Linked DNA regions of Homo sapiens: region 1 is linked to region 2. Evidence: fine-mapped expression QTL. Tissue or cell type: whole blood. Region 2 holds a variant in brackets; the other region holds the start of a gene. All regions are shown on one strand. Distances are between the middles of the regions.

Region 1 (8,107 bases), 70 kb after region 2:
ACCAGCAGCTGCTGACCTGGGCCTCCCACAACATGGAGCAGGCAGGAGCTGGGGAATCCCGCCCCTGCTGAGTTGGCCTGCGGGAGCTCCCTGGGTGCAGCTGCCACTGCCCTCTCACCCACGGGACCCAGGCATCTCTGCAGCCTGTACCCTCTGGTGCCCCGGAAGGCCCCCCATCCCTGCAGGCTTGGGGTGTCTGCTCCCGCTGCCTGACCTCTCTCCTCTCCTGGAGCTGGCTCAGATCTTGGAGTGGGGTTGGGGTTGAGCCCTGGGGCCATGAATGGCAGCGGGAGGCAGACAGATTCTTGGGTGGAAGGGGGCAGGTCCCCAGTAAGGCTCTACCTTCAGTCCAGGGAGGGCCTGAAGGCTGGGGGCCAACTGCTGGTCCTGCATACCAGTTTGGGGACTCATGGGGCCTCTTCCAGCAGCCCATGGCTGCCCATGGACCAATCAGCATGCACTTCCTCCCCTCTGAGGTCCATAAAAGCCCTGGGCTCAGCCAGAGCAGGGCAGACGATGGCCAAAGGACGAAGAGGATAGACAGACTACACAAGGACCAGCTGCAGAAAGGAGCTACCGTCTCTGCCGAGAGCTTCAGAGACAACCTGCCAGCAGACAGGAGGCACCCTCTCCAGGGCCTCCTCTCCACTGAGAGCTGCAGACATTGGGACAACCAGTAGTAGAGAGGAGCTACCCTCTCCAGGGCCACCTCTCTAATGAGAACTGAATGCTGGACAGATGATCTTCCTACAGAGAGGAGCTACCCACTGTGGGTCTCCTCTGAGCTCTTGTAACACTTAATAAAGCTCATCTTCGTCTCGTTCACCCTTCACTTGTCTGCGTACCTCATTCTTCCTGGATGCAGGACAAGAATTCGGGCAAAGGTGCTGTGGCCACAGAGGTTTCTGGCCAGGAAATTGACAACCCAAAACTCCCTGACAATAACATGATGAAATGTAGCTTATTGAGGGAATGAAACACTTGAAAATCAATCACTGTAATACACATATCAATAAATCAGAAGAAAAACAATATGATCATCTTCATAGATACAGAAAAAGCATTTGACAAAATGCAACATTCACTTATGATAAAAAGTCTAAGCAAATTAGAAAGTAAACTTCCTTAACTTGCTAAAGGGCATCTTTAAAAATCTACTGCTAACTTCCTAATTGTTGTTGAAATTTCCCTCATAAATAGGAAATAAATCAAGGATTTTTGCTTTTGCCACTCCAACTCAATATTGTAGTGGCGGTCTTAGCCAGTGCAATAACACTAGGAAAGAAAAGCCATACAGATGAGAAAGGAAGAAATAAAACTGTCTATTTGCAGTTTCACATAGAGATTTCAAATAGAATTAGTACCTATATATATTCATTAAATACTTCTCAATGTTGATAGTTATTAGTTAAGATTGTTGAGTTTATTAATATTTCATAAGAATAATAGAAGTCATAAGATATATCTCTTTTTAAATAGTTTATAATTCAGAAAGTTAAATTCTTATGGCTTTTCTCTTAAGCTAAATTGCTGAATTCTTTGTTTTGGTTACCTTTTCTTCTGAAAACTCTCTTATGACCTCTGCTGTCCATTTATTGAACATAAATCATTAAATAAAATATTCGTTGACATTTATATCTAGATGGTAAGAAATCTTCTGCCCATCTGATTATTTGAGTCAGTTTTAGGAAACAATATATGCTAAGAAATGCTTTAAAATTGTTTTCTTATAAATGTAATATATTTTCACTATTGATAACACACAAAAAATTGCAGTAACCACTCATCATATCACTGCTTAAAGATAACAACTGTTATCAAGTGGTATATATCCCTCTGGAATTGTTTCTGTAAAGTATAATTTTATGTTAAATTTATTATTATTATTACACAATTGAGATCATACTATACGTGCAATTTTGTATATATTCTTTTCACTTTATATATGGACTATTTCCCATATCAAGATATGTTTAAATTGTTGCATAATATATCAGCTATATACTAATTTATGTAATACTGTCTTATTTGGGAGCATTTAACATTTTTTTATTGAGACAGAGTTTCACTCTTGCCGCCCAGGCTGGAGTGCAGTGGTGTGATCTCGGCTCACTGCAACCTCTACCTCCTGTGTTTAAGTGATTCTCCTGTCTCAGCCTCCTGAGTAGCTGGGATTACAGGTGTCCATCACTACGCCAAGCTAATTTTTTTAATTTTTAGTAGAGATGGAGTTTCACCATGTTGGCCAGGCTGGTCCTGAACTCCTGACCTCAGGTGATCCACCTGTCTCAGCCTCCCAAAGTGCTGAAATTACAGGCATGAGCCACTGCACCTGGCCAGGGAGCATTTAAATTGATGCAATTATTTTCTCTTACAAGTAACCCTATAAAACATAATTCCTTGAGCATCCCTAATTTTATGCTTACATCCCCAAAAGCACAATTTCTGAGTCATAGAAAAAGCTTTTCATTCTTATTGCTGAATTGAACTCTAAAAATTTTGTGCTAACTTAACACTCCTACCAGAAGTATATGTTCATGACCACAGAAATAGCTTTTTTAAACTAAGATGTGAAAATATCTTAGAAACAAACTCTAAATAAGGAGAAAAAAGTTGTATATAATTTTCTACTTATGAGGTGAATAATTTCATTTTTTCTTCAAAGGTGTCAGGAAAATGGACGTTTTGGTAGAGTGATAAAAGGGCCAGACCTTCTAATTGCTTAATCTTAATGTTTCTGAATCTGTTTCCCCATCTATAGTGTGAGGAGAATAATTTCCCTCCTAATTAGTGAGGATACAGTGAGATGACGCATGTGAACATGGTTTGACAATTATAATGTCATATGGATGGAAGATACAACTTTTATTAATCATTGTTGATATGTGGACAGATTTGATACTCATTATACTGTTTTTAAGTGTCTATAACTTTAACTATTTTATACCAATCTTAATATTAATAATTTTCTCCATTTTCAACCTTGTATGATCAGCAAAGTAAATTTTCAGTCAATTCTATTTGGTTTTTGTTTGAAAAAGTAAAATAATGATTATGCAACATAGAAAATTATAGTTCAGTTGCCAATTCCATTAACTTAGTTTGTCTCAGAAACGGAAAAATTACCATAGACACAGAATTAACTATTAAGAATTAATATTTAATCTAAAAATGTCTAGTGTTTCTACAGAAAATTTGAGTACATTCTCAACTTCCTTAAACCAGTGCCTTTTTCAAATTTCTTTTCAAAGTTACACCTGTCAATTTTCATAAAAAATAGTTTGAAGATTATTCTGAATAATTATAACCAATGAAACACAAAGACAAGAAAAGAACTATTGCAGTGGGCCCTTGCTGAACCTGAGCTAGCACCTATAATGAGTGAGTCTTCACCGAAAGAAGAATAAGGAGGGAGCAAGGACTAGAAGGACAGAAAAGAGGCAATGATAACTTAAGAGAACACTGAATTTTTAAAAATTTTAAAAAGGTAGTGGCTAGCAGAGAACCTGAGACTTGTACCCATGAGAACTTTAGCCCAGTCTATCTATCACGATAGCCCCAAGAATTCTGGTCATTGTACTTGGGTAAGGGCTTCAATTTTTTAAGGCACTTGCATTTTATGAAATGTTAGTGTTTGCAGGTGTCTTGGCTAAATAATTTAGGGAATACATTTTAGGAGGAAGTAGGGGCACAGAGGGGGAGAGAGAAACCAGGCAGGAAAGAAGAAAAAAAGAAGAAAATAAATCTTTCTGTTCCCATTATTTTACTGCCCATAGAATTATAAAAGGTAAACACACACACACACACACACACACACACACACACACACACACACACACACACACCTTATAGGGTCATTTAGAACCATCTTTCTTCATTTTAAAACTAAAGAAACAGGTCTAGGTGACACAGATGAAGCAGTGGCAGAGCCAGGAAAATAATCTGACCCTTGTCCCTGCTCTTTCCACCGCACCATGGTGACTCTCTTTTTTGTGTCTTTTTTTTTTTCACTCTAAAACTGATGATCATTTGTAGTCAAAGAGATCAATGCTATTCTCAAAACAAGTTCTGATCTCTCATAATTTTCTTGGTAACTCAGAATCAATGTTAAGTACGTTGAAATAAAAATACAGTACTTTACACGGTAATTTGGTAGACTGTGCACCACGGTCCCATCCATTTTCTTACTTGATCCTCACAAAAACCCTTTGAGGCAAGGCAAGGAAGGTATTATCATCTACATTTTTAAAGTGAGCAAATTAAAACCCAAAGTAAGGTCACTTAGGGTCAGGACGGAGCAAGTACTCTATTCCTATATTTGGAATATAGGAGGGAATACACTTCCAAAGAGGCAATTCCCTCAAAAAGCACCAATCTTGCTCTTTACTCTCTTACCAAGGCATTCTCCATGCCCTGGAGATGCCCGCACTAGGTTAGTGAAGCTTGGATCTTGACATCCACATAGGTTACTCCTAGTTTGCACCTAGTTGTCAACTTAAAAAGCGCAGTTTCTTACCCCTTCCCTTGGTCCTGATCCTTATTTAGGCTCCTATTTTTCTCTTTGGGATTTGGCCTCCTGGGTCTCACTCCAAAGCTCCACCCTCTCCAAACAAGAAGTCGCGTCCTTGGTATCCAAGGTGACCATGCAGCTTTACCCTCGTTGCCCCCTTCCGTGCTTCCCATTGGCCAGTGGCCTCCCATGTACCGCCCCTCCAATAGCCAATGGTCTTGAAACAAAGGGCGCCCGCCTTTCCAGCGATTCTAACACCTGCCCTCTTACCCGTGCTCCCCTGCGCATTGCCTCCTGGGATATGTGGTTTCTAAGAGGCGGAGCTCTGCGACTTTCCACCGCTTTAGAACTACGTATCCCGTCGGCCTTAGCGAAAGGGGGTGGACTTAGGCAAGGGGTCCAGGTCAGAGTTCAGAGCTTTCAAATCCCAACTTGCCCCTGGGGATTACGCAGCTGATGTTTACATCGCCTAGTCAAGCCAACCGGCTCGCTCTTGTTTCAGCAAACCCTGACTTACGTCTCCTATTTGACTTGAGGCGGCACAGTGGCCAAGTCGATTGGCCGTGGCAAGTGACCCTCCCTGTGGCTGAAGTGTTCTGAGGACTGGCGAGAGAGGCGCGCCATGCTTGCCCCCTGTTCAGGTTGGGAGCTTGGCTGCTTCCGTCTCTGTCTCCGTCAGGTCCGACTGTGGGCTGGCGCTGGGCGCTGGTCTTGCTGGGCTTGCCAAGCCAGGCCGTACAGCTCAGGTAGGGGCGAGCGCTGGCCCGGATCGGAGACTGAGGTCCCTCCGCCTGGCCCGGCGCGCCGAACTCTGAAGGAGTGGACACTGCAGGTGAGCCCGTTCGGTCGGCTGCGGGCGCGGCTCCCGTGCCACCTGGCCGTGAGGCCCCTGGACCCCCTCACCTACCCGGATGGCGACCGCGTGCTGGTCGCGGTGTGCGGCGTGGAGGGCGGCGTGCGGGGCCTGGACGGCCTGCAGGTGAAGTACGACGAGGATCTGGAGGAGATGGCCATTGTGTCTGATACTATCCACCCCCAGGCGTCCGTGGAGGTGAACGCGCCCCTGAAGTTTGGCAAGTGAAGTGAAGTGAAAACGGGTTTGGGTCCCAGGGAACGCACAGTGAACTTAATAAATTTGGTCGACGTGCACTTTTAATTGGTCCTGGCTTTCTAAACCTAATTTACAGTTGGCCCCTTCGGAAATGCAACTTTTCCTCTGTTCTATTCTTGAGTATCCGAGTAGTATTTAAAAAATTAGGTTCCCAATTATAGAAATTTTATACATCGAATGGAAACACGATTTGGTATAATCCAGGTCAAATTCTATTTCTGGAGCCGCTTGTGTTCTTCTTTATCCCGTTGTCATTAGCAAACTGGCTTATTTTTCAAGGTTGAAGTTTCTTGACAATTCATTCAATGGTATGGCAGTCCATCTACATTTCCCCTTGCTCACAGCCTGGGGGTGTGTCCCAAAACAGCCCTGTCAATAGGATGTTCCAGGTACCACCTGGTTTGAGTATTTGGTTTTAGACGGGCGCCCAGCTTCTTACTGTTATGTTTCCATTCTTTTTGGCCTAAGTTTTCCATGAGTAGCAAGCTTTGAAGAAAAACACATGGTAAGCCTGCCTAGGAAGCTTCAATAATAATGCCTGCAAGATACCTTTCTTAGGTTTTCCTAAATGGCAAGCCACTGTGTACACACACTTTTCTAGGAAGGGCTCCCCAGACTGTCATTCTTCCTGGGACTGAAGGAAGATATTGATGATGATGATGATGGTAATAATAATAGCATTTAGCATTTTTAAGATCATCTTTTATAATGCTTACAGTTGCCCAAATAGTAGATGCCGTAGTCCTCCCTTATCCACCGTTTGGCTGTCTGAGTTTGTTACCTGCCTCAACTGTTGTAGGAAAATATTAAGATATTTTGACAGATCACAGTAATATAACTTTTATTACAGTATATTGTTATAATTGCTGTATTTATTATTATTGTTGTTCATCTCTTACTATGCCTAGTTTATAAATTAAACTTGATCATTGATATGTATACAGGAAAAAACATAGAATATATAGGATTTGGTACTATTTGTGGTTTCAGGAATCAAGTCGGGGGGGCGGGTCTTGCCTACTTTAAGAGAAATCATCAATATTTATGTTAATTCCAAATTAAATATCAGCGTTTTTAATTTTTAAAATTTGTATACAGCGATGCCTGCAGTTACATCTTAAATAGACAGCCAAGGATGGCATTTGTAATTCCTTATTTTCCAAACTTGCTTCATGTACCACTGCCATTTGTCCACAATCTTGTGGGGTTTTTTGTTTGTTTGTTTTGGTTTTTTTTGAGACTGCATCTCACTCACTCTGCCATGCAGGCTGGAGTACAGGTGCACAATCATGGCCCACTGCAGTCTTGACTTCACGGTTTTAAGCAATCTTCTCGCCTCCGCCTCCTGAGTAGCTGGGACTACAGGTGCATGCTACCATGCCTGGCTAATGTTTTTGTTTTTTTGTAGAAAGGGAGTTTTGCCACATTGTCCAGGCTGGTCTTGAACTCCTGGGCTTCAAGCAATCCTCCTTCCTCGGCCTCCCAAAGTGCTGGTATTACAGGCATGAGCCACGGCTCATGGCCTAATCTTGTAGTTTTAATAGTATATATTAGGTTTTTCAAAGTTGTTCCCATTTTTAAAAAATTACTTCAAATACCTTGTGATATAGTTGCATGGTAATATTTTCATTTTTTAAGTATGAAAGGTTAGACATAGGATTTGAAAACCTAAGTCATGATCATATATACTGGGGAAGAGGCTTCTACAGTCTTTCACAGGAGTACTTAACAGAATCGTAGTCTCCTTTACTTCCCATCTATGTTAGTTCTCTTTAGGTGATTTAGGCCAGTAGAAATAACTGCTCTGTTTCTAAAAACGGGCAGAAAGGCTATTGTATTTGGTCCCGTTGCCGTGGTAGAAGACCCCTTACCTTTACAGTATGCACTTTCCAGGATTCAGCAATATTATGGACATAACTGAGGAGTTGGGTTTCTAGGTTAAAATGCTTTGGAGCTTATAAACTGCAGTACTAACTTGCTTTTTTCTTTTTTTACTTCTAGGTTTAGATATCAAGTCATCAGGGTCTGGCTGTGTAGAAGTTCAAAGTATTGAGGGTGATAATTGCAAAATTGAAACAGAGCATGGGACTAGCATCTTGCAGTCTGTTAAGGTATAGCATTTTTCTAATTTTATTTCACTATTATTTTTTTAAAAGCCTTAAGCTATGAATCGTACTATCAAACTCAAGAGATTCTTCTGTTTTTCAGAACATTGTCATTTATTCATCTCTCAGAAAGTCCTTGGCAAACATTTTGCCTTGAAATCAGTTCTAGTAAAGTACAGAGGTTATAGCAGTTTTGAGGTTTTGCCTCAAATTTCTTTTTGATTTAATTTCAAAGTGTACAGTGAAACTAATAGTATTTTCCTAGTATTCTGAAATCTTACTAAAGAAATTTTAGTTTCCACAAATGATTTTCTTCCATTTTATTAAAGAGTAAGGAAGAATCTTTGTGCACTATAAATGTGCTTAAATATTAGATGACTT
Region 2 (8,107 bases):
CGTTTGCTGTTGATGCTGTCATTATTACTACCAACCAAGAGTATATTAGAGGTCCTTTCTGCTTTATAACATTAGGTTCTTCTTGTGAGGCCTTAAGCATTTGCTAAACAGGTTCAAGTAAGTTTAGTAAAGTTTCATTACTGCCATTGATTCAATTATCAAACTGCTTTTGTACATATAAAGAATTCTTCAGATGCATGGTTTCTATTAACAAGATCCAATGCCTTCCTTTTATTTCCCCTTCAGTTCAACATCTAATATATAAAGATTGCTCTGACTACTACGCAATAGGCAAAAGAAGCAGTGAGACCTACAGAGTTACACCTGATCCCAAAAATAGTAGCTTTGAAGTTTACTGTGACATGGAGACCATGGGGGGAGGCTGGACAGTGCTGCAGGCACGTCTCGATGGGAGCACCAACTTCACCAGAACATGGCAAGACTACAAAGCAGGCTTTGGAAACCTCAGAAGGGAATTTTGGCTGGGGAACGATAAAATTCATCTTCTGACCAAGAGTAAGGAAATGATTCTGAGAATAGATCTTGAAGACTTTAATGGTGTCGAACTATATGCCTTGTATGATCAGTTTTATGTGGCTAATGAGTTTCTCAAATATCGTTTACACGTTGGTAACTATAATGGCACAGCTGGAGATGCATTACGTTTCAACAAACATTACAACCACGATCTGAAGTTTTTCACCACTCCAGATAAAGACAATGATCGATATCCTTCTGGGAACTGTGGGCTGTACTACAGTTCAGGCTGGTGGTTTGATGCATGTCTTTCTGCAAACTTAAATGGCAAATATTATCACCAAAAATACAGAGGTGTCCGTAATGGGATTTTCTGGGGTACCTGGCCTGGTGTAAGTGAGGCACACCCTGGTGGCTACAAGTCCTCCTTCAAAGAGGCTAAGATGATGATCAGACCCAAGCACTTTAAGCCATAAATCACTCTGTTCATTCCTCCAGGTATTCGTTATCTAATAGGGCAATTAATTCCTTCAGCACTTTAGAATATGCCTTGTTTCATATTTTTCATAGCTAAAAAATGATGTCTGACGGCTAGGTTCTTATGCTACACAGCATTTGAAATAAAGCTGAAAAACAATGCATTTTAAAGGAGTCCTTTGTTGTTATGCTGTTATCCAATGAACACTTGCAAGCAATTAGCAATATTGAGAATTATACATTAGATTTACAATTCTTTTAATTTCTATTGAAACTTTTTCTATTGCTTGTATTACTTGCTGTATTTAAAAAATAATTGTTGGCTGGGTGTGGTAGCTCACGCCTGTAATCCCAGCACTTTGGAATGTCAAGGCAGGCAGATCACTTGAGGTCAGGAGTTTGAGACCAGCCTGGCCAAACATGTGAAACGCTGTCTCTATTAAAAATACAAAAATTAGCCGGGCATGGTGGTACATGCCTGTAATCCTAGCTACTTGGGAGGCTGAGGCAGGAGAATCGCTTGAACCTGAGAGGAAGAGGTTGCAGTGAGCCAAGACTGAGCCACTGCACTCCAGCATGGGTGACAGAGAAAACTCTGTCTCAAACAAAAAAATAATAAAATTTATTCAGTAGGCTGGATTCTACACAAAGTAATCTGTATTTGGGCCATGATTTAAGCACATCTGAAGGTATATCACTCTTTTCAGGCTATAATTATTTGGGTAATCTTCATTCTGAGACAAACTTAATCTATATCATTTACTTTGCAACAGAACAACCCTACAGCATTTTGGTTCCCAGACTAAGGGAACTAATATCTATATAATTAAACTTGTTCATTTATCATTCATGAAATATAAAATACTTGTCATTTAAACCGTTTAAAAATGTGGTAGCATAATGTCACCCCAAAAAGCATTCAGAAAGCAATGTAACTGTGAAGACCAGGGTTTAAAGGTAATTCATTTATAGTTTATAACTCCTTAGATGTTTGATGTTGAAAACTGCTTTAACATGAAAATTATCTTCCTCTGCTCTGTGTGAACAATAGCTTTTAATTTAAGATTGCTCACTACTGTACTAGACTACTGGTAGGTTTTTTTGGGGGGGGTGGGTAGGGATATGTGGGTAATGAAGCATTTACTTACAGGCTATCATACTCTGAGGCCAATTTTATCTCCAAAGCAATAATATCATTAAGTGATTCACTTCATAGAAGGCTAAGTTTCTCTAGGACAGATAGAAAACATGAATTTTGAAATATATAGAACAGTAGTTAAAATACTATATATTTCAACCCTGGCTGGTAGATTGCTTATTTTACTATCAGAAACTAAAAGATAGATTTTTACCCAAACAGAAGTATCTGTAATTTTTATAATTCATCAATTCTGGAATGCTATATATAATATTTAAAAGACTTTTTAAATGTGTTTAATTTCATCATCGTAAAAAGGGATCATCTCAGAGAGAACAGCAGTATTCTGCGTATTTTTAAAAATGCTCTAGAGTAACATTTGAAGTAATTCACTGTAGTGTATGCCAGTCCTAGAAATAATTTTTTTAATTTCTGGTGTCTGTTTCTAATACACTAACCAAGTTTTCAAAATATATTTACAAAGATGCATCTTTACCCATTATTTTAAAATGATTAAGGAGGATAGTTGCTTCAGGTAACAAGCTAATTTTTCAAATATTAGGCCCTTACAGAACTATTTAGTCAAAAAGTAAGATATTCCTTTAAAATATATAACCCAAAGCTTTCAGTTAAACATGATATATCACAAATACTATTAAAATGTTAAAGAGAAATGCAAATAGCATTAAATGATGACCAAAATGTAAAATATTGTAGATTTCAAAAGCTGTGTCTCTATTAGGTGGGATACCAAATGTAAATGATGTAACTGACGTTGTTTTTTACTTTTTACTTTTTAAAAAAGACTAAAAACGTTTTGATATTATACAATGTATTTGTTTCAGATAAGGTCATTGTCATTTAGTATATATAATTAATATATGTACAAGTTTAAGTAAATTCCTGTGAGTAAAAATGGACTTATCACAAAACATAGTTCTAAAGAAAGGTATATGCTCATATACACGGTGTCCATTAATTTAATGGGAACTAGGTATAACTTCAGGAGAATTTGGCAAATAATTCATTAATCCATGTAAATATTCAAAAGCTTGTTCTATCCACATTATTTCAAGGGATCACTTTATTTTTCATTATACTTTCACAGCACTTTTCTAGTAAATTCTGTAACACAGAAATTCCATTTTGGAATCATTTCATGTTACCAATAATTCTAGACTTTTATAACATTTAACATGTTGATGGAAATAGATTACATCTGCTAGAACCTTTTGCCTTAACTATTCACCAATATATGCTAATATTCATAAATATGGATTGACTGTTTACAAACATTAGAATCTTGTCTTGGTTCCATTTTGATGGCTAATATTTGTTATCTTAATTAAGACTATTTCTGAGGTCATGATTACTTGAAAATATTGACTAAAACTGGGTCCTTAGAAATTCCAGGTGGAGCTGATTTACCTATGACTGAGGGGAAAAAAAAATCAAATTTTACTGATAATAGTAATGCTCCAAATGAATTAATGACACATCTGTTCAATAAATAAAGAGCTTAAATATACAAAACATAAGAAATCTGGGCAACAAAACTTGTGGTCTTTACTTTTGAATAGCTACCCAAGAAAAGGTTTTAAAGGTAAAAGTTATGAGTAATGTCATCACAATAAGCTCTTGTTTAAAATTCTTTTCTTTTATGTATAATTAGGTTTATGTTTCATGTCTTTTTAAAACCTTATAAAAGATTTAATTATCACATCTATTCTTCAATGTGGAAATATTAAATATTGTTGGTTGTAAAATAATATTTATGTACTTACTTGTGTCTGAAAAGTTGTAAAATGCTTACCTCAGCTATACA[A/G]TATCTGTGACTCTGAAGACTTTAATGAGTACTATTTCATTAACAAGAAGTCAGAGGCAAATAGAGGAACACCATTATCTTACTTCCCTCTAGAATACTGTTGAAACATTTGAAATACAAAAGTTTCAGTTTCATTTTGTGGCATTCAACTTCCTCTCCTCTTTTTCCGTTATTAGTGTTGCTGCTCTGGTTAGCCCTCTTCATCTCCTTAGGACAACACAAACGCATCTGAATAGTCTGTACCTCTGGTTTCAGTCTATTCCAGTCCAACTTTCATCCCTACCAGGGGGATTGTTCAAAAGTACAATTCTGATCATGTTATTGTCCTGCTTAAAAAACTTTCAACAACGCCTTCTTTTCTTTTTTTTTATTATTTTATTTTATTTTTTTTAGAGACGGAGTCTCACTCTGTCGCCCAGGCTGGAGTGCAATGGCGAGATCTCGGCTCACTGCAACCTCTGCCTCCTGGGTTCACGCCATTCTCCTCTCTCAGCCTCCTGAGTAGCTGGGACTACAGACGCCTGCCACCTCGCCCAGCTAATTTTTGTATTTTTAGTAGAGACGGGGTTTCACCATGTTAGCCAGGATGGTCTCGATCTCCTGACCTCGTGATCCACCCGCCTAGGCCTCGCAAAGTGCTGGGATTACAGGCATTAGCCACCGTGCCCGGCCAACAATGCCTTATTTTCTACAAGATAAAATCTGGCAAATAAGTCCCTTCATGAAATGATTTTTACCACTACTTATACTTCTGCCATACTAAACGCCTTGTTGTACACAAACAAACTACGCTTTCTAATGTTTTCATTGCCTTTAGTATACTGTTTCCTTGGTCTAGATAGAATGCCATCCTCTTTCCTCACTGGGTTTTGTCTTATCACCCATGATTAACAGCAGGAACTCAGGAGCTGGCCTTCCTGGTTTGAATTTCAGCTCCACTATTTGCAAGCTGTATGATCCTGGGCAAGTCACTTAATGTTCTTTGGTTCCTTCAATTATAAAATAGGAATAGTAATAGAATCTGCCTGATAGAGTTATTGAGAGGATTAAATCACATATATAAAGCACCTAGAACATATATATTTAAAAATCATCATTCCCAGCTGGGTGTTGGTGGCACATGCCTGTAATCCCAGCACTTTGGGAGGCCGAGGTGGGCGGATCACGTGAGACCAGCCTGGCCAACATGGTGAAACCCCATCTCTACTAAAAATACAAAAATTAGCCAGGTGTGGTGGCTCACACCTGTAGTCCCAGCTACTCAGGAAGCTGAGGCAGGAGAATTGCTTGAACCTGGCAGACAGAGGTTGCAGTGAGCAGAGATGGCGCCACTGCACTCCAGCCTGGGTGACAGAGAAAAAAAATCATCATCATCCTAAGTAGTTATTATTATTTTTTATTTTTTGAGATGGAGTCTTGCTCTGTCGCCCAGGCTGGAGTGCAGTAGCACCATCTCGGCTCACTGCACGCTCCGCCTCCTGGGTTCACACCATTCTCCTGCCTCAGCCTCCCAAGTAGCTAGGACTACAGGTGCCCGCCACCACACCCAGCTAATTTGTTTTGTATTTTTAGTAGAGACTGGGTTTCACCGTGTTAGCCAGGATGGTCTCGATCTCCTGACCTCGTGATCCGCCCACCTTGGCCTCCCAAAGTGCTGGGATTACAGGCGTGAGCCACTGCGCCAGGCCCTAAATAGTTATCTCTTATAGGCAGAGTTCTCTGATGACAGTAGGTGGGGTCCTGGCACCTCTCCTAGATCTTATGCCATCCTACATATTCCTTATTATATATTATTCAATATTGTCTAAGTTCTATCCTGAAATCAATCTGTGTGAATAGGAGTAAAGGAAATTTGAGACATGAGTATTGTTATTCAAAGTGATTAATAATATGTTGCCACAGAGAAAGAGTTGTACTCTAAAGAGGCCACAGTTATGATTGGGAAAGTAGTGGGTAGGGTCAAATCTGCGGATATGAGAGACTGTGAACATAGGTGAGAAGCAATTACAGCCAGGGAGAATATGGCAAGACAGGATCAAATACAGTAAGTCCTCACTTAACGCTGTTGATAGGTTCTCAGAAACAGCGACGTTAAAACAACATACCATGTAACAAAACCAATTTTACCATAAGCTAATTGACATAAACAAGAATGAAGTTCCTATGGCATACAATATGCTGTTTTTGCTTAAAGTTGCTGTTTCCAAGAACCTATCCATGATGTTAAGTGAGGACTTACTGTATACTATAGGACTGGGAATGTAACAGTGGCAAACTTTTAGAAGGGGTCCTAGGAACATGCCTGTGGGGACATGTCACACAGAGGCATATTGCTGTACCTGCCCAATAGTGATTGTTCCACCCTACTGAATTCCTGAAGAAAAAAGCAGGAATAATTTTGAAATTAATTTTAATATAAAATCCATGAATCCTTTAATTTTTTAAAAAGTTACAGATTAAAATAAAGACTCCTTCACAAATCACCTTCAATTTCAATCCTGTCCCTCTCCCCAGAGGTAACAAGCCGAGGTGGCCAATTCCCAACTTTAATTTCATTCTGTGCATTGCCAGATCACAATGTCTACTAAGTCATAAGCTTGCCAGGTCTCCTTTGTTGATTGACTGGAAAGAGGTGGAAATGAGAGGAAATGGGTATACTTTGAAAACATGGAGTGTCCCGAATTCCCAAACATGAGTGGGCCCCCCCTTGCTTTTTGAAGTAGTCCCTCCCCTGACATTGATGAGGATGTCCTCTTGCTGGAGGGCACTGTTGCTTTCTTTCCTGGGGGAACACTCCAAATTCTTCCTTAGGCTCCTTCATCCCACTCATCAGCATCTCCAGATTCATCATCAGGGCATGCCCCAGTATCAGTTCTAAAGTCTAATGGAAAGAGAAGGCTTTGCACAACTTTGCTAACTTATATCAGCAGAAGGCTGGAGAAGACATGTAGAGAGAGACTGAGGTTGCCTGATTAAGGAAGAAACAATTTTAGATGTGACTGAATTTACTGGTATAGGTATATTTACCAGAAATTATAGATTCAACAGGCTATCTTGAGAAGACATGTTTGAGTCTAATAGTTTGCTTGCTTAGTTAATACAAACTTACATTCAATAGCAGCTCATGGTAACTAAAGTTGAGAAGCCAGAAATGTCTTCGAACTCAGACTTATGGAGATAGAAATGCTGGGGTAAAGTTAGCCTTAATTCATTCATCGAGTATTCACTGAGTGCACACCATGTGTCAGTCTTCTAGGAGGCTGGAGATTTATCAGTGACCAACACGGATAAAAATCTTACACTCATGCAGCGGGTAGTAGAGACAAATATATGGTAAATATTTATCAGAGGAGACAAATACATGATAAATACCATTAAAAATTAAGGAGAGTAAGGGAGTAGTAGAAAAGGGGGTGCTGTTTCATATAGAGCAGTCAGAAGAGGCCTGTCTGTGGAGGTGAAATTTGAACAGAGACCTAAAGATATGAGAGCTCAAACCAGGCAGATGTCTGGGATAAGTGTGTTTCAAACAAAGGGAACATTAGGTGCAAAAGCCCCAAGCCTGGAAGAGTGGATAGCATGTTTGAAGGTCAGCAAAGATGTCTGTGTGAAACAGCAGAGGGTCTGGGGTGGTGAGAAGATGAGATCAGAGACAGCTTGGGTGGTTGGGGATGAACAAGGGATAGGAGTGGTATACCGGATTACCTAGGCCTTTAAGCCATGGTAAGGACTGTGCCTTTTACACTGAGTAGATAAGAGCCGTAAGGGTTTTGAGCAGAGGAAAGACATGATCTCAACCAGTTTTAAAGGGGTCGCTTTTGTAGCTAAGTGGAAAACAGACTGTAGGGAACCAAGGATTGAAGCAAGGACATCAGTTTGATGTTTGCAATATTCTTGCTAAGTGATGAGGAAAGCATGATGAAAAGTTGCAGTGAGATACATCTATTTTGAAGGTAGAGGTGACAAAATTTGCTGATCAAAGGTCAGCCAGTGGTAGATAATAACAATTAGAGGCATTATAGAAAACCGCAAGATTTTAGTCTGAGCAACTGTGAAGGATGGAGCTGCCAGGAACAGAAATGCGGAAGTCTGCAGGGGAAGCCTGTCTGCAAAGTGTGTGAGGAGTGGAATGGAGTGGGGTGGGAGGCTGGAATCAGAAGTTTTGAACATTATAAGTTCAAAGATATCCA

Evidence for each region. PIP is the estimated chance that this variant, and not a neighbour inherited with it, causes the effect.
Region 1: it holds the start of CCDC146, and the variant in region 2 is fine-mapped to the expression of CCDC146 in whole blood (INTERVAL, PIP above 0.99). The same link has a PIP of 0.9 or more in blood mononuclear cells.

Annotation. Positions count from the first base shown.
Region 1 is chr7:77,119,142-77,127,248 of GRCh38, reverse strand. CCDC146 (coiled-coil domain containing 146) reads right to left here and starts at 4,634. Exons shown (of 19, transcript NM_020879.3): 1 at 4,517-4,634. It overlaps LOC124901678 (a long non-coding RNA gene), which reads left to right. Exons shown (of 3, transcript XR_007060391.1): 3 at 477-743. It also overlaps the pseudogene FAM185BP. RefSeq lists a silencer at 4,849-4,948 and enhancers at 4,844-5,343, 5,344-5,845.
Region 2 is chr7:77,189,125-77,197,231 of GRCh38, reverse strand. The region is part of intron 2 of CCDC146 (coiled-coil domain containing 146); the gene reads right to left. FGL2 (fibrinogen like 2) reads left to right here. Exons shown (of 2, transcript NM_006682.3): 2 at 247-3,863. The coding sequence ends at 953. Among named protein-coding and RNA genes, the nearest start is that of FGL2, 6.6 kb to the left of the region's middle. The variant A/G (reference allele first, on the strand shown) is at 3,918.